Homo sapiens: one gene and its partner. The protein of the gene in region 1 interacts with the protein of each later gene in a pairwise test. Each region holds a gene or a part of one and is shown on either strand. Other genes may lie near its edges.

Region 1 (10,211 bases):
TTCTTAATTTTCCTTTCTTCCCTCCTTTTCATATCAGAATGCTATGTTTTCGCTCATTTTCTTTCCTGATTCTGAAAGTCTCTCTCTCTCTTCTGTTCTAAGACCCTGCATGTCAATAGTTTTCAAGCCCGGCTGCACATTAGACTCAGCTGGGAAGCTTTTTAAAAATACATCATCACTGGGTCCCATCACAAACCAATTAAATATAAATCTCTGGAGGTGGAAGCATGGCATCAGTATTTTTTTTAAGTTCCCTGGTAGGGTGCCAAGACAATTTAATGGGGGAAAGAATAGTCTTTTAAACAAATATTACTCAAACAACTGAATATCCAGATTCAAAAGAATAAAGTTGAACCCTGTCTTTATAGCACACACAAAAAATAACTCAAAATGAGTCACAGATCTAAATGTGGAGCTAAAACTATAAAACTCTTAGAAGAAAACATAGAAGTAAATCTTTATGACCTTGAGTCAGGCAAAGCCAACTTAGATATGACACCAAAAGCATAGGCAACAAAAGAAAATAAAACTGAACTTCATCAAAATTAAAAATTTTTATACCATAAACAATATTATCAAGAAAGTGGAGGCAACCTATGGAATGAGAGAAAATATTTGCAAAGTATACATCTGATAAAGAGCTTGTGTCCAGAATATATAAAGGACACTTGCAAGTCAGGATTAAAAGATAATTTAATTTTTAATGTGGACAATGTGTCTAAATAGATATTTTTCCAAAGAAGATATACAGATGGCCAATAAGCACATAAAAAGATCCTTGACATCATTCACTTTTAGGGAAATATAAACCAAAACCACAATGAGATTCCATTTCAAACTTGTTAAGATGGTTCTAATAGAAAAGATAGATAATAACAAGTGTTGAAGAGGATGTGCTGAAACTGGACCCTCATACATTGCTGATGGGAATGTAAAATGGTGCAACCACTTTGGAAAACAATTTGGCATCTCCTGAAAATGTTAAACATATAGTAATCATAATGACCCAGCAATTCAAGTCCCAGGTATATACCCAAGAGAAATTAAAACAAATTCACACAAAAATGTGTACACAAATGTTCATAGAAGCATTATTCCTAATAGTCAAAAAGCGGAAGCCCAAATATCTATCAACTGATGAATGGATAAGTAAAATATGGTGCACTGGAATATTTCTTGGGAATAAAAAGATAAGAAGTACTGATATAGGCTACAACATGGACAAACTTTGAAAACATTATGCTAAGTGAAATAAGCTAGTTACAAAAGAGCATGTACTGTATGATTTCATTTACATGAAATATCCAGACTGAGCAAATCTATATATAGAGAAAGCAGATTGGCGGTTGTCTAGGGCTGGGGGGTGAAGAGAAATGAGGAGTGACTGCTAATGGGTATGTGGTTTCTTTTTGTGATGATGAAAATGTTCTAAAATGGATTGTGATGATTGTACAACTCTGTGAACATACTAAAAACCATTAAATAGGAAAAAAGAAAAGAGAAAAGAAAGGAAGGAAGGAAGGGAGGGAGGGAGGGAGGGAGGGAAGGGAAAGGGGAGGGGAAGAGAGGGGAGGGGAGGGGAGGGGAGGGGAGGGGAGGGGAGGGGAGGGGAGGGGAGGGGATGGGGAGAAAGAGGTAGGGAGGGAAGGGAAAAAGGTTCCACAGGTAATTCTAATACTGAAGTTTATTTCCGGCATTTTCCTTTCTAGATTCCTTCAGAGTAAAGACTGCATTTTCTAAATTTTTTTCTCCCCCATATTCTTACAGAATAGTAACACAGAGCAAGGGTGTGATTTTTTTATTTTTATTTTTTTGCAACAAACTGTTCTTGGGGAATGTTCTTTATTTTAATCAAAATTGCAAGATCAGGCTGCCACCTGGCAGAATTGGTCATCTTGGCTATCTTGAACTATTTGAGCTCTCCAAGCACTTAATTCAGCTGAAGCACACAGAAAGAGGATAGGCACACAACGCAAACCAAACTGACCGGTTTTGCCATCTGAAGTATGGTTGTTCTGTCATCTACCAGTGGATGTGGCCTCTGGCCCTTAGGAACCATTCTTTTGACAGTTCCCCAGGACATGGCTCTGGTTTGACTGACTTTGTTTACTAAATAAATTAATTCCTACTTCTGGAGTAGCTTCAGTTTTTAAACAGAAAGCCATCTATTGACAGTCACTGATACACAGGATTTTATTGTTTGATATTAAACAATTAAGAGTTATTGTTTTTTTCCCTACAAGTACACTATACATGAAGATAAATATAATGTAGAATACAGTCACTAGGAGTGGGGAGAGAGGGGGATTCTATATCTGCTCTGTGCCTTAAAGTAACAGTTTTACTTTAGTAAATCCAAAGTACATACTGTATTTCTTTCACAGAAATAAGGCTCTCTTTTGGCAAAATGTGCATCAAAGACAGAGTCTGATGAACATTTTTTAAGATGAGTTTGATTATTAAACAACATTTTTTAAATATCCTAAGAATTTGACCTTTCGTGCTAGTAGACTTCAATAATTTAAAATTACTTGGAAATTGCTACTTTCAACAAACTCTCTGAAGATATACAAAAAAGGAAAATGCTGAAATAAGTCAAGATGTTTACAAATATTATGTCTAAAATGTTATCTCATTTGTTAAACCCAGAAAATAAAAAATAATAAAATATGAAACCATAATTGTCCGAGTATAGGACAAAGATCTGATTTAGAATCAGGCAGAGGTTTTCCCTCTATTACTCCAGCAAGTTCAAATGTACTCAGAAATACAAAATGATTGACGGTAATATCAAGATGAGAAACAAAAGACAATGTTACATCCTCAGGTATGATAAGTTTGAAATTAGATGAGTTTACAGTTGGAAGATTCATTAAGAACAACAATTCAAAAGATATTATAGCCATAATTTAGAAGTCTTGCTTCACGAGAAAAGATAATATAAAAATCTAAAAATTAAGTATTGATTTTACAAGGTAAACATGGCAGCCTGGATTATAAGAAATATCAGGCATTTTGCTTTCTCAGGAGAAAGAACAACTGGGTACATGCTGCAGACTGGCATATAAATCGCTCAAAGTGAAGCAGTTGGGAAATGCTGTCAGATTATTCGGGTTGAGGAGCTGCCCCAGGGGCAGAACATGTCACAATGTCACATCCCTCTTCTTTACTCTCACAACTTTCACCAGAATAAACAGACCCTTGGAAAACAAATTCAATCACAAATAGTAACTTTTTGTTAAAACTACAGTAGCAAACTACCAAACCAACTTTATACATGGAACATATCAGAACTTTTCCATGTTTCCCCAACACAGTGGAATAAACTATTTTCAGCTAATAAGTTCATCTTAGGAAAACACTCATGTGCATTTCTATGCAATATAATTGTGGAACATTGTAACCACTTCTTAGTTTTCATTAGAGGATATTGAAAAACCCAAGTTTAAGGATAATTCCCCCTTTCCCTCGAATGCAGCTTTTTAAGTTTTTGACACTATAAAGTGTAGAGAGTGACATAAAGAAGAGCTATGAATATATATAAATACACCACTATGGCTCCCGTCATAAGAGCTTTTGAAAAATGGTTGAACAAGTATTCATCTTCACCAAATTGCAATCGCAAGATACTGACTGTTACACAATATGAAACAAAGGCAAGGTGAAGGGTGAGGAACGGCAGAAAGGACGGTCGCAAGGAAGACAAGTGCCCCACAGGATAGAACCTGCTCTGTCTTGCGGGCCCCGCTTTTCTCAGCACCTTTCTGGTGTTCTGGGCTTTTCTGCTAATACCATCCACATCATCTCTCAGAGAAATGAATCTCCCTTTAAGGAAAGCCAAGCAGGCATCCGAGGTAACGTGCAGAACCGTAAATGAAAAATGTCCACGTCTAGCAGGCAGACAAGCAAAGGAAAACCAGCTGTCAGTTTCAGAGGCTCCTAGCTGTAACGGGGTTTCGGGTTTCTCTCCGCCTCTGTCTCTCTGTCTCTCTCACGGTGTCGCCCTCAATAATATCAGCTTTCTAATCACCTCAAATCACACATTCTCTGTCTGTCCTTGTGAAATAAATACTGAAGAAACAGGAAAAACAGAGTGCAATACTCACAACAACGAAGAATTCCTACACATGCTGTTCCATTTTCTTGCTTTGAAAAGATGTAAGGTGAATTTTAAAAGCCTTGCAGAATTGGAAAAATAAAGGGGAGGGGGATTCCACCCACACAATCCTCCAGCCCACCGCAAAGGAGCCCAAAGGCTTGCTGACGTCACAGATTCATGAATGGATGTAAATTGGGCTGGTTTAGGATTCCGCACAGACTTCGCTGTGGTGTGTGTCATGAAAAAAAAAAGAGGGGCGGGTCCAGAGTAGGCCCAGCCAATAGGCTTCAGGCAGACATGGCCTTCCTTCTTTTAGAAGGAATCTGGTCACAGAATAAACAGAGCCCGCCAATCAGGCATCTGCCACTGCCTTAAGACAGACTGGCAGCTTGAGTGTGTGTGTGTGTGTGTGTGTGTGCGTGTGTGTGTGTGTGTGTGTGTGTGTTTCAAGCTGTGATAGTCATAAAAACATTATTATTGTTATTGAATGAAGGAATCAAAATAGAATTTCTGTGGAATCAAGGATAACAAAAATGCATATAGAAGAAATCCCATCTTTTATTCATTAGAACTCTTTTCTTCAACCCTTTTCTTACTGTTCAGCAATATGCCTGATGCGATCAAAACAAATCAAAGTCAGGAAAACCATTTCTAAAACTAGCAGACTAGTGGACATGTATGCCCTGCTCACCACGACTTGTAAAAGCAAAATTGTCGGGACTTGTAAAAGCAAAATTGTCGGGAAGAACGCATGGGAACAATAATCTAGTAACTAAGAAAACAGACATATGGAAAATAATATTACACGAATGTAGCTGTTTTGCACAGCAGTAACATCTTGCTGACCTTCATGATGTATCAAAAGTGGATATGGAAGAAAAATTTACTGCTACTTTTAAGTAGGGTACAGTGTTTCCTCATTGGTTTATTCAACTTCTGGCAGTCGATTAAGACACAGCTCCAAAAGGGCACTTAATGAAACTTTGAACAAATTTTGGTTTCAGTAAGATGTTTTATTATTAACAGCAAAAACAGCTGTATTAAATTCACTCAAGAGGCATCTCTTTCTTCTTTATTTTTACACTTTTCAGTTATACAAAATTGGAGATGAATATATTTATTGTCCCTACTCCCCATCACTACACTTCACAATGACTAATACTTGACAAATACTGATCATGATTTTTCTGAACTTGGGAAATGGCCTCAATCCTTGAAACTAGAACGATCGTGGTTAATATAAAGCCTCAGTTATGAGGTGTCCAGTGACCAAGAACATTCTGAACAGAGATCTGCTCTATTTCTCAATCAGATTATTTATACAACTGTGAGAGAAGGAAAGTGGTGGCCTGTTTCTAAGTGGTTCTGGAGGGTCTAAACCTGACCACTAGTAAGTATTGCACACTTCTTAGCTCATTTGGAAAAGGAAAACTTTTCAGGATAATTTTACACACAGCAAAGATATTCAGTGTACTGTCTATATTGAAGCAATAGAATATCGTTGGCAAACAACATAGTTAACAAACTTCTCTAAAGGAGCTTATTGTGGAATATCACTACAAAAAAGATAGACCAAAGAAGTTTACACATGTAACATGGGAGTGCTCAAGGCAAATACGGCATTGGTACACGCCCAGTAGGCCTCAGTGTACCACATTATTTAAGAACGAACATGCAAGGCACGGTGGCTCATGCCTGTAATCCCAACACTTTGGGAGGCCAAGGTGGGCGGATCACGAGGTCAGGGATCGAGACCATCCTGGCTAACATGGTGAAACCCCGTCTCTACTAAAAATACAAAAACAAAATTAGCCGGGCGTGATGGTGGGCGCCTGTAGCCCCAGCTACTCGGGAGGCTGAGGCAGGAGAATGGCGTGAACCCGGGAGGCGGAGCTTGCAGTGAGCCGAGATCTTGCCACTGCACTCCAGCCTGGGTGACAGAGCAAGACTCCGTCTCAAAGAAAAAAGAAAAAAAAAAAACAAAAAACGAACAAATGGAAAGCTGAAGAATATACATCTCTATTTAACAACAACCAAAGCCAATCAGGATACATTAAAAGAATCAGATTTATGGAAAACATTTTTTTCTTCCAAAACAATACAGACTAACTAATGGAAAGAGGCAAACTTTTTGTGGACTATGTCAATAAAATAGCCAAGAAACATCAATTTGTGTGTGTGTGTATATATATATATAATATATACACACACATATAAAATCTGTATATATGTATATGTATATATGTGTGTATACACACACACACACACACACACACATATATATATATACACATACACATATACATATAAAATCTGAGGTCAGGAGTTTGAGACAAGCCTGGCCAACATGGTGAAACCCCATCTCTACTAAAAATACAAAAATTAGCTGGGCATGGTGGCACACATCTGTAATCCCAGCTACTCGGGAAGCTGAGGCATGAGAATCGCTTGAATCTGGGAGGCAGAGGTTGCAGTGAGCTGAGATCACACCACTGCACTCCAGCCTGGTGACAGAGTGAGACTCCCTCTCTCAAAAAAAAAAAAAAAAAAAAAAAAAGCTAAAGCTGTTGTAGAAGTTTTTCTGTAAGTTTTGACAGCAACAAAATTACTAATAAGTCCACTATGGATGGGAGTAGTCTCTGAAGCAATTCAACAAAACAGGGTCTATAAATGCTTCTAATAACAGTCACCTAAGATTCTTGGCTCAATATATAACCTGGAAAATAAAAACTTGGGGGCTTTATGGACTTGCCACTTCAGTAAGATGATAAACTTGGCCTCAGTTAGCATGCTTCCTGTACCACAGGAACATCAGCTAGGCCAACAAAGACTCCTCCATGTCAACTATCATGGGAAATCATTGGAAAGATAAGCTGTCTCACCAAATTATGGAAGATATAGAAGTCAGTCTTGGAGGAAGTCATTATCATTTTAGAAGCAGAAGGTAGGAAGGGATATAGAGGCATGAAAAATGTACACTCTAGAGAAGTACAGCCCAAGAGAACTTGCTGTGATTATGGAGCATTCCATAGATTTGAAAGATGGCTAGTGTTCTTGAGGAAGTGAATTTTTAATGTAAAGTGATTTAAATTTATTTAACTCCAAAATAGTCACATTTAGCTGGTGGCTATGGTATGCAACAATGCAACTCTAGAGATATCAAGCCAAGTCCCATCATTATAAGTAATTTTTAATTGCAGCACATGGGCATACTAAGTGTGGAGGACTGCAAAGCCATTATCAAGGTGAGTAAGCTCTTTTAAGAACCAAATGAATCTCCTCAAACTTCAGTAATAACTGGAAAATGACTCTAGTCTCATTATGCAAGAAGATATTTAAAACTCATTATTAGATAAAAATCTATATATAGAAATTAAGGTACAATAATTCTGCTATAAAATATAAGCTATTCTTGTTTTGGAGTTTTTTTTTTTTGAGGAAAAAAATGTGTTTTTAAAAAAGGAAAACAACTCATTTAAGCCAGAATCGAAGTCCAAAGTATCATGACCCATGGGCAATTTTTGTCAGAAATACCAGGAAAAAGAAAGAGTTTAGTGATCTCAAATGCTAATACGTGGAGACTCAAATTTCCTTCACAGATAAGTGTGTAGTGGTTAAAAGCTGGTAAAGAGATCTGGGCTCAAATCCTATTTCTGCCACTTATTAGTTATGAATATTCAGGTAAACCTGAGTTTCAGTTTTCTCATTATTAGAATGGGGATTATAATAGCCTATATTATTGTGTGAAGGTTAAAGTAATATTATAACACATGTAAAGATTTGCACACAGTACCTACATACAGAAGTTACTCAGTAAATGATACTGGTAGCTGGTTTTATTTTGTTATTGAGACCCTGCTACTCTCTCAACAAGGGAAATTTCAACAACTGTGCAGATCCAGGAATCAGAACCACAGGAACTAATACAACATCTTTATTTTGCTTATAATAAATCTTGAACAGATCTGATATGGTTTGGCTCTGTGTCCCCACCCAAATCTCATCTTGAATTGTAATCCCATAATCCCCATGTGTTGTGGGAGGGATCTGGTGGGGGGTAATTGAATCATGGGGGCAGTTCCTCCATACTGTTCTCATGGTAGTGAATAGGTCTCACAAGATCTGATGGTTTTATCAGGGGTTTCCACTTTTGCATCTTCCTCACTCTCTCTTTGCCTGCTGCCGTCCGTGTAAGATATAACTTGCTCTTCCTTGCCTTCCACCATAATTGCGAGGTTTCCCCAGCCATGTGGAACTGTAAGTCCAATTAAACCTCTTTCTTTTGTAAATTGCCCAGTCTCAGGTACGTTTTTATCATCAGCGTGAAAACAGACTAATACAAAATCTTTTCAGGAAATTCTAAAAATATCTATTAGTGACCCAACTTCCAAAGGGAAGTTCATCCAAGTCATTTTCCTTCAGGTGGTTGGGGAATATCTTTGGGGTTCTGAAACAGATCAGGGGAACCTTCAGGTAGTTATGCTAGCTGATCAAGAGCTCTATTCATTGTTTTTAAAAAGCAGCTACATTTTTCTACATAAAGATGTAGTTTGTATAAAATGATGTGAATTAATCTGGAAAACAATCTGTCTCCTAGTTGGGAATACTGGTCAGAATTCTCCACTTTCATATCAGAATGTTAACCCTATTTCCACTCCAAAGTATATGGAGCCTTGGTCAATAACTGAATTTCAATATTCAAAGACCTCAGCAGATTATTATTAATACTGCCATTTTTCTCTGTCCAGCTCCCATTAAATGCCTATCTGAGAAAGTGATTTTTAAGAAACATCTAAGGAAAAACATTCTTATAAGTTCACTCAAATCTATCCTTGTGTCAAGGGAGATCATCAGAAAGCTACATGCTATCTAAATATCATTAGCCTAATACCCCTTAGAAGAATAACTATCATTGAGTGTTGTGGTCTTGCTTTTATTAAAAATTATTATAAGGAAGATTCATATTGCTTCTGTGTTGTCCATTATCTTGAATGATATCTCCCATGTAAGGAATTCACATGGAGAATTTGTTTTACAACTTAATATGAAGGAAAAATTTTCTGTTCTTGAAGAATTATTAGGTGTCTGTCTACCTTTTAGATGATAACAGTGTAATCCACTGAATTTTCATTTTTTCGACCCTGCTGCTGGGAAGCTCAGAGCCAACTTTAAAATTCATATGCTTTAAAATAAGCTAAGCACAAAAGTATATATTTACATGCATACTTGCTTTCTCTTCCTTGTTTTGGGTTGGATTACTCTATGGTTAACCTTATTATATACATTCTTTTTTATGATAAGCACTTCAAACACTTTTTGAAAAGGTATGCTATAAATAAAAATTTGCACTAAATACATATCTGTAAACTTTTAAGAAGATTAAAGCCTCATGTTAAATTCTACAGTCATCTTTATATTAAAGGTACACATTATGGCAAACTTTAAAGAATATTGTGAGTTAATTAGACTTAACTATTCAATATTTTTAATTAAAGGATAATAAAATATCTAGCCAGCTGGAGAAAAGCAATTGCTTGAGATTTTATGTGCTATTCAGAATAAGTCTTAACAGCTTAATGAAGCTTTAATGTGTTATTCCTGTCAAAAGGATGATTACCAATGAGGGATATAAGATTCTTCTCTGACTGATAACACAAATGTACTGAAGCAAATCAAAAGCAGATGGATTTCTCAATTAATAAAATATTTACCATCCCCAAAATACACCATTCCATAACATACAAATTCTGGCAAAATACCATAAACCAAACCTTTGCAGGATTAAAAATAATATACTGAGTTTGCAAAGGTACTTTATACACTGAAAGAGCAAAAGAAGACTTTATAGATTACTTTACTCATCCACATAGAATTCATACTACTTTCTTTCTTTCTTTTTCTTTTTTTCTTTTTTTTTTTTTTTTTTTTAGATGGAGTTTCACTCTTGTTGCCCAGGCTGGAGTGCAATGGCGCGATCTTGGCTCACCGTAACCTCCGCCTCCCGGGTTCAAGCAATTCTCCTGCCTCAGCCTCCTGAGTAGCTGAGATTACAGGCGCCCGCCACCACATGCAGCTAATTTTTTTTGTATTTTTAGTTGAGATGGGGTGTCAC
Region 2 (9,320 bases), on another chromosome or scaffold:
GAGAGGCTCTCCCTTAAGGCCTTCCTTGACAACCCCATCTAGAACACCTACAACTCCGCTTCAGCAGTTTCACTCCACATTATTTTCCTTCCAAACACTCTACTTTTACTACATGTATGAGGTGTTTCCCCTCTAGAATGTAAGAGCTTAAAAGCAGGGGTTTGTCCGTTGTTCGCTCTTGTGCCTGGAAAACAGCACCTGGTGCGGGGTAGGCACTCAAGGATTTACTGAAACAACGAGAAAATGTTTCCCTATCTGTCTTGCCCCTAAACCGAGTTCCTTGAGTGCGGAACCAGCATCTTATTCTCTTTGTGGCCCCTGAGGTAAATGCTCAATAAATGTTTGTTGATAATCTGAGAAGGAAAGGAGAGCCCAAAATAAGCTGATCCAACAGTTACTGGTGGTAAAATGCAAATGTTTTAAAATATGTTTATTTTGTATGTTTTACAATGAATACTTCAGCAAAGAAAATAATTATAATTTCAAAATGCAATCCCTGGATTTGATAAATATCCTTTATAATCGATTACACTAATCAATATCTAGAAATATACATAGACAAAGTTAGCTAATGAATAAAATAAGTAAAATGACTACATAAACTCAATTTCAGGGATGAGGGATCATGCATGATCAGTTAAGTCACTCTGCCACTTTTTAAAATAATACGATTCACATTTGCTTCAATCACATAAACATTCATTGCAGGAGTTACACGGCTAATCATTGAAAATTATGATCTTTGTTAGCTTAAAAGAAAATTCAGTTTAATACAAAGACATTCAAGATGAAAATTTCAGGACCGTTGATCAGAAGCTTTCAATGTGTGTTGCTCTACTTTATTATAGGCAAGATTCAAGTAAGGCTAAGAAAGAAGAGTGTTTCCATTGAGACATGATCTAAGAATAGCCTTCTATAGAGGCAAATTATGTTCTGTAGAAACTAGCTAGCCAGCCACCAAGATGTTACCAATAAAGGATTCCTTGTACTAGCAACTAACCATGTTTAAAAGGTCTTAGCCAGAATTACAAAAACAAAACATTTAGAGTAATACTTATGAATACAAGCATAATTGGTTCCTTGCCTTCTACAAATAACCATCTTGAAAATGATAAAAGCAGGTTTCAACTGTGGTTCTTCTCTCAGTTGAGAAGGTGCAGATACACATGGGTGATCTACTGATTTACCTTCTGAAAGTACTCTTTGGAAGCAGCTGGACTTGGCTTGATCTGAAAATACAAAAGCTTAATTAGGTAACTGTGACTTTACCATAATAATAGTCCCAAAAGTGAGTGGCAATCTCCCAATTTTTAACCTAAAGTTCTTTAAACTTTTAAAGATTTCCTTTAAAACATAAAGATGAAAGTTTCATTAAGGCCTGCCTGTCTCTAGGCCGGGCACGGTGGCTCACGCCGGTAATCCCAGCACTTTGGGAGGCCAAGGCGGGTGGATCACGAGGTCAGGAGATCCAGACCATCCTGGCTAACACGGTGAAACCCCGTCTCTACTAAAATTCAAAAAATTAGCCGTGGTGGTGGGCGCCCTGTAGTCCCAGCTACTCAGGAGGCTGAGGCAGGACAATGGCGTGAACCCAGGAGGCGGAGCTTGCAGTGAGCTGAGAGAGCGCCACTGCACTCCAGCCTGGGCGAGAGCAAGACTCCGTCTCAAAAAAAAAAAAAAAGGCCTGCCTGTCTCTGATAATTGGTTCCTGGCTCCCCACCCCACCCCCTCTACCCCACAGCAGCTTCACCCATTTGCATATCATCTGCACGCTTGCTTCAAGAGTGGGCTCCCTTTTGTGGATATTTCAGGTCAATAGCTCTCGAGGCTGAGAGAACATGGACCTCACTGCTTTTGGGGAAAAAAACCTACCGTAGGAGAATCCGGTGTCCAGTTCGCTGGGCAGACTTCTCCATGTGTTTCTACATACTGGAACGCCTTCACCAAGCGGAGGGTTTCTTCCACGCTTCGGCCCACTGGGAGATCGTTGACGCTCAAATGCTTGATGACTCCATTGGGGTCAATTATGAAGAGACCTCTGCATGATCATTTATCCTCATCAGTGCCTCAACAGTACCAGAACTAGAACAGTCTAACTTCTTCCCTTTTAGGTCTTTAATTCTCCTTTTAATAAAATATTTATTAAGCGTAATCATATGCTTAAAGGTGGGGTTTTCACTGTTGTGCAAAAAACTTATCATCTCTTACTGATGACAGATGCTTTAACAAAGGCAGTACTGGACCAGGTCACCATAAAACATGCAGTATGGTCACACTTACAAGTTCACATAGTGCCCTGAATGTTACACAGTATCGGAAAGTCACTGAACTAGAGAGAGCAAAGACTATTAGTGACTTGGCAAGCATTCTTTGAGCTGCTGTATCACATCTTGGCAAGAAACTTATAGGCAAATGGGAAGAGACAGAGGTGTATTTTATCTAGGTTCAACAACTGTTTATTATGAATGAATTATTGGGTAAATGGGGGGAAATCCCACGGGAAAAATCTTCATAGAAAGAATGTACAGGCTCTAAGTCTATGCAAAACAGAAAACCATGCCCATCACTTTTAATCATGTAGCAGCATGTAATGAGATGAACCACGCTACCACAGTGGTCTGTGTTTATCTTCTGTGTTGGTGTTACTGTGACAGATGCAGATATGTTTAGCCTAGAAGTTTTTTTGGTTGTTTGGTTTAAATATAGGGTCTCACTGTATTGCCCACGCTGGAGTGCAGTGCTCTTCTCAGGTGTGATCACAGCAGGCTGCAGCCTCGAACTTCTGGCTCAACTGATCCTCCCACCTCAGACTCCCAAGTAGCGTGACTATAGGTGTGTGTCACTGTGTCCGGTTATTTAACCTACAGGTTTTAACAGTCTGTCTTAAAAGGATGTGGAAATTTCAGGTATCAATCACTCATGGAAAAGGCAGGTTAGAGAAAACTCAGGATAAAAGATGCTTCTCCCTCCCTGGGTCAGGCACTGGGAGCCTGGGGTTTGAGGTGAAACTGTTCCCAGAGGGTGCAGCCAGCTGAAGTCCACCAATAGAAGGTGAGGCAGAGCTGGGACAGAGCAGGGCCCATAGACTCCCAAAAGTCTTTATCTTATAAGCCAGACTCAGCTTCTCTCTCTTGTTAATCTCAATATTAAAACGGGTACAGAGGTAACTGCAAAATTAGTGAGTTCTCATAGGGAAAGGGACCGTAGGAGAAAAATAGCCAGTACCCTTTCTCTGGCCATTGACAATTCTGAAAGACCTAGGCATTCGTTTGATAATCTCTTTAAAGTTTAAAAAAAAAAAAATGGTCTGCCAGGTGCGGTGGCTCATGCCTGTAATCCCAGCACTTTTGAGAGGCCGAGGCAGGCAGATCACGAAGTCAAGAGTTTTGAGACCAGCCTGGCCAACACGATGAAACCCCATCTCTACTAAGAATACAAAAATTGGCCGGGCGTGGTGGCGTGTGCCTGTAATCCCAGCTACTCGGGAGGCTGAGGCAGGAGAACTGCTTGAACCCGGGAGGTGGAGGTTGCAGTGAGCCGAGATCACGCCACTGCACTCCAGCCTGGGCGATAAAGCAAGACACCGTCTCGAAAAGAAAAGAAAAAAAAAAAAAGAGAGGAAAAAAAGGCCCAAACTCTAAGATGCCACTCAGCGCTAAAACCCAAGGTGTAACCCAAGAAAGAGCAGGCCAGAGGTCACCTACAAGACAGGCAGGTGAGCTGGCTTTGTTTGTTTGTTTGTTTGTTTGCTTTTGAGACAGAGTCTTGCTCTGTCGCCCAGGCTGGAGTGCAGTGGTGCGATCTCAGCTCACTGCAAGCTCCACCTCCCAGGTTCACGCCATTCTCCTGCCTCAGCCTCCCGAGTAGCTGGGACTACAGGCGCCCACCACCACGCCCAGCTAATTTTTTGTATTTTTAGTAGAGACGGGGTTTCACCATGTTGACCAGGATGGTCTCGATCTCTTGACCTCGTGATCCACCTGCCTCGGCCTCCCAAAGTGCTGGCATTACAGGCCTGAGCCACCGCGCCCGGCCAGGTGAGCTGGCTTTAAGCTGACCAGCCCCCAGCAAAACTGTGAGGCACAGCACATCAAAGGGGGATCCCCTCTCTTCCTTCCTGGAGGTCAAGTTCTGCCCTATCCCTCCTTCACTCCTATTCTCAGCAGACTTCAAGATGCCAATTCTAAGACCCAAGTTCTCATCCCTCCCAGGAAGGTTATGTTTGAATGTGGGGCTGCTGAGGACTGAAAGCTTTTCACACTCAAAGGAATAAAGGTTTAATAAGGGACTGAATACAGATAGAAATGATGTTCTGGGGCAGAAATCCTAACAACTGCTGCCAGTAACTATGCTAAAAACTCTAGCTGTGTCACTATTTAATCCTCACACCCACCTGTGACGTACCACCTCATTTTAGTTATGGGAAAACTGGGGCTCAACAAGGTTAAATCAAATCAGTTGCCCAAAGTCACACAGCTATTAAGTAGCTGAGTTAAAAAAAAGAAAAACTCAAACCAAGGATTGTTTGGTTCCAGGGCTGAAGATGGTCACCATTCCAAGAGACTACCTCTTACCCTGCTAGTCCCCCCTTCTGCAGAGTCTGATGGCTTCAATGTCAGGTGTGTGTCCCCATGGAAGTGGCTCCCACATAGTTAGGGAGTATGGAGCAGTGTGGCCTCAAGACGCAGCCAGCCTTCTTCAGAAAGAGACCCAAGGTGGTGGAGGGGACATGCATGTCTCAGCATTTCTGAGAGACCGCCAACCCTTGCAGGAGGCATTTCATCAGTGTTTATTAAAGACTAAAATTAAGGATTGATTATTATAAATTTTAATTCTTTTTAATATAATAGGGATGAGGTCTCACTATGTTGCCCAGGCTGGTCTTGAACTTCTGAACTCAAGTGATCTTCCCGCCTTGGCCTCCCAAAGTGCTACGATTACAGGCATGAGCCACCATGCCCAGCCAGGATCTTCTGGTTTTAAAAATGCTTTACCAAGGTCTACATAAATCCCCTAAGAAGCAGAATGATACTAAACATGAAAAATAATCTTAAGTTCATCAGAAACAGGATCTTACCTTAGTGCAAGACCAGAACCTTCTAACAGCACACCGTAGTCTCGGGAAATCTGCTTAGTTAAGTCTGACAAGAGTGCGATGTTCATGTGGCCCAAACCACCATTCTAATCAAAATGCAAACATGACTGTTAGAATGTGTGGCCTCACAACATTCTTGACCACGTACCACAATGTTTGAGACCAACAGTAACGGCGATAGGTAACAGTAATTCAACAACGGGCCAAGCACTGCTTACTCTATTAACCTACTGCCTCCTCGAAACCACCCTGGAGAAGACACTATCAAAATGAGGAAACTGAGGCAAGAAAAACCTAAGTAACTTGTTCCAGGTCACAGCTAGAAAGGAGCAGAAGGAAGATTTACACCCGGCTAATACTATAGACCTTTTCCAATTTTTTTTTTAAGACACAGAGTCTCGCTGTCACCAGGCTGGAATGCAGTGATGCAATCACAGCTCACAGCAGCCTCAAACTCCTGGGCTCATGCAATCATCCTACCCCAGTCTCCTGAGTAGCTGGGACTACAGATGCTTTTTCTAATTCTTTATTATTTTATTTATTTATTTATTTATTTTGAGATGGAGTCTCGCTCTGTCGCCCAGGCTGGAGTGCAGTGGTGCGATCTTGGCTCATGGCAACCACCGCCTCCTGGGTTCAAGCGATTCTCCTGCCTCAGCCTCCCGAGTAGCTGGGACTACAGGCGCCCACCACCACACTTGGCTAATTTTTTTTATTTTTAGTAGAGATGGGGTTTCACCGTGTTAGCCAGGATGGTCTCGATCTCCTGACTTTGTGATCCACCTGTCTCGGCCTCTCAAAGTGCTGGGATTACAGGCGTGAGCCATCACGCCCGGCTGCTTTTTCTAATTCTTAAAGCATTCTTTTAAAGGCTAATTTTCTCAAACATAGACATGGAAGAGTAATAATAAAAAAAATACCTTGAGTAGGCCAGGTGTGGTGGCTCATGCCTGTAATTCCGGCACTTTGGGAGGCCAAGGTGGGCGGATCACCTGAGGTCAGGAGTTCGAGACCAGCGTGACCAACATGGAGACACCCCGTCTCTACTAAAAATACAAAATTAGCCAGGGGTGGTGACACATGCCTGTAATCCCAGCTACTCGGGAAGCTGAGGTAGGAGAATCGCTTGAACCCAGGTGGCGGAGGTTGCAGTGAGCTGAGATTGTGCCATTGCACTCCAGCCTGGGCAACAAGAGTGAAGCTCCGTCTCAAAAAAAAAAAAAAAAAAAAACCCAACCCTTGCGTAATTTGATCTTGATAGTCCAGCAGCATAGCTAGAAATTTAGATTCTTCCAAGCAAGTTTATAAGAGCAAAAGCTAGGGGTACAATGCCATACCTTTCTTGGTGTATTTATCCAGGCAAGATGGCTAAAGTGGGAATCCACTGAGACTGCGACAACTTCACAGTTCACGTCGTGAAATTCGTTAGCTTTGTCACTAAAAGCAACAATTTCTGTAGGACACACAAAGGTGCTGGAAAAAAAGGATAGAAATTCTCATTAGAGCATTTAAAAACAAGGATTTTAACAATTAGTGGTCTAACAACTAGTTCAACTTGCTAAGGGTAAAAAAGGCAAAATGGTTTACCATCCTCACTGGACTATAGTGTTGTGCTGGCAAAAGTACTACTACCTCCCCTCACCTTTTTATTTTTAGGAATTGTATCAAAAAATGGGGAAAGGGAACACATATTTTAAGAAAAAAAAATTACAGTTCAATAAAGTTGCTTTTTGAAAAAAATCATTTTATTATGCCTACTTTTCTCATTTTTCCCCAGACCAGTGAAAACTTTTTCATAGACTGGCTTAGGGAAGCAGTGCTCCAGAGCACAGAGGTGTACTATAAAGAAAGCTGTCCTACCCCACCCCCGAAGTTTATCACTTGTAAACAAGCTACAGATCCCAGCTGTAATCAACAAGGCCATCAGTGATAAAGGGTCAGAAAGAATCCTTCCTTTCACAAGGGTATCTAGGGATAGACAATTCAGTGTGGGAACAGGATATGTGCTTGCTCTCAGAATGACACGAAAGCATCATAGAAATTACACTTACAAATCCAAAGGATAGAAGAAAAGCACCAAATATTTCCCCTTAAAGTCATCAAGGCTTAGGTCTTTGAACTCTCCATTGACAACGGCTGTACCCTTAAAATAGGGTGCATGCTGGGTGACAGCAGGTGCATGGCATGAGGAACCTGAAAAAAAACCCACACTCATATGGAGTTCATCATTTGCTATGTCAAGCACCTATGATTTTATTTAAACTTCTCATAATTAATTAGTAGTATAAAGTGCTTAGTATAAATCAAAACATTCGGTTCAACTGTACATCTTAGGCACAGTCATCCTTTGCCACCTGTGGGGGGATTGGTTCTAGGATATCGAAATCTACAGATGCTCAAGTCTCTTACATAAAGTGGTGATTTGCATATAATCCACACACACCCTCCAGTATACTTAAATCATCTCTAGATTACTCATAATACCTAATACGACGTAAATGCTACGTAAATAGTCGTTAAGCTGTATTGTTTAGGGAATGACAAGAAAAAAAGACTTTGTGTTCAGTATAGACACAACCATCCATTTTTCCCTCCCAATATTTTCGATTCAACCAACCACAGATGCAGAATCCAGATACAGAGGGCCAACTGTAATTTCTCCTTCTATAGTTTTAGATTGTGCACAAATTCAATTCCAACTGCTACAGAAACTAAAAAGAGGAAGACAAAGTAGGGATAGAATTAAGGAAGACATGAGACTAGAGATGGATTTTAAATATGGTTCAGATTTTGTCAAGTCTAGATGGGATGGGGCAGATGGCATGTAGGAAACAGCAGGAAGGAAGACAGGACATGTGTGTGGAGCAGCGTGTGGCAGTCTAATGAGAACAGAGAGTGTCTAAGGGTACGGAGTGAAGAGCAGGCAGCAGGCAGGAATGGTTGAAGGCCATGTTGCAACAGTCCTTAAATACTAGGCTGCTGGGTCTTCTTAGCAGGAAAGATAACAGAGTCAAGGGCGGAGTCTCGCTCTGTTCGCCCAGGCTGGAGTGCAGTGGCACAATCTCAGCTCACTGCAAGCTCTGCCTCCTGGGTTCACGCCATTCTCCGGCCTCAGCCTCCCGAGTAGCTGGGACCACAGGCGCCCGCCACCCCGCCCGGCTAATTTTTTGTATTTTTAGTAGAGATGGGGTTTCACCGTGTTAGCCAGGATGGTCTCCATCTCCTGACCTCGTGATCTGCCAGCCTCGGCCTCCCAAAGTGCTGGGATTACAGGCGTGAGCCACAGTGCCTGGCTGAGATGGGGGTTTTTAGGAAGATTAGTCCGGCAGGAGGGAAAGAGGAGCAGGAGGAAGGGGGAGACATGTTAGGAGGTGGTTTCAGTGATTTTTTTTTTTTTGAGACAGAGTTTCGCTCTGTCACCTAGGCTGGAGTGTAGTGGCATGGTCTCGGCTCACTGCAACCTCCGCCTCCCAGGTTCAAGCAATTCTCCTGCCTCAGCCTCCCAAGTAGCTGGGATTCCAGTAGCACACCACCACACCCGGCTTATTTTTTTTAAGTATTTTTAGTAGAGACGGGATTTCACCAGGTTGGCCAGGATGGTCTTGAACTCCTGACCTCAAGTAATTCGCCTGCCTTGGCCTCTCAAAGTGCTGGGATTACAGGTGTGAGCCACTGTGCCCAGCCTCGATTTCAGTGATCTTAGACGTATTGAGGGGAGGTATGGGGCAGAAAGAACAGAAAGGAATGGATGCAAGAGATGTGTCAAAACTGAAAAGGACTTGCTTCTACCCAGGAATGAGCGACAGAGTAGTTCCAATGTCAAAATGCCTGACACCGCCATGAACAGAAACAGGAGGCGCTGCTGGGGATGAGGATTCGAAACCAGTGGAGTAAAGTTTTAAGCCTGTGGTATCACATCACTACTAGAAATATTTTGAAGCTCCAGGGTAGTAAAATTGCGAAAGCTCTTAGAACATTTTGCCCACAAACAAAGGCTTTACTAAAGTATATCCCCACAAACCATTACATATTAAATACGGGCTTTTTCAAAGGCTAGTCAAATCTAGACAAGGTATTTTCAAATACCACTCATTATCTGAGGCTGATCTTAGCAAAGCCCATATCCTAGAGAAGGGAGTGTAAATCTCAAGAAACAGCTAAATTTCGCTCAGATTACAGATACCATTAGACAGGTCTGGTTCCTAAGTGGCCAGCTGGGGCCATT

Evidence for each region.
Region 2: the proteins of MAP3K13 (region 1) and PRDX3 interact in a two-hybrid assay, tested with the Homo sapiens proteins (one study listed by BioGRID).

What each region holds. Positions count from the first base shown.
Region 1 is NC_000003.12:185,357,264-185,367,474, reverse strand, and holds the start of MAP3K13 (mitogen-activated protein kinase kinase kinase 13), read right to left. Parts: upstream 4,340-10,211; 5' UTR 4,107-4,339; intron 1-4,106. UniProt on the Homo sapiens protein: Activates the JUN N-terminal pathway through activation of the MAP kinase kinase MAP2K7. Acts synergistically with PRDX3 to regulate the activation of NF-kappa-B in the cytosol.
Region 2 is NC_000010.11:119,167,305-119,176,624, forward strand, and holds the end of PRDX3 (thioredoxin-dependent peroxide reductase, mitochondrial isoform a precursor), read right to left. Parts: intron 7,289-9,320; coding exon 7,147-7,288; intron 6,569-7,146; coding exon 6,433-6,568; intron 5,182-6,432; coding exon 5,078-5,181; intron 2,039-5,077; coding exon 1,873-2,038; intron 1,230-1,872; coding exon 1,176-1,229; 3' UTR 416-1,175; downstream 1-415. UniProt on the Homo sapiens protein: Thiol-specific peroxidase that catalyzes the reduction of hydrogen peroxide and organic hydroperoxides to water and alcohols, respectively. Plays a role in cell protection against oxidative stress by detoxifying peroxides.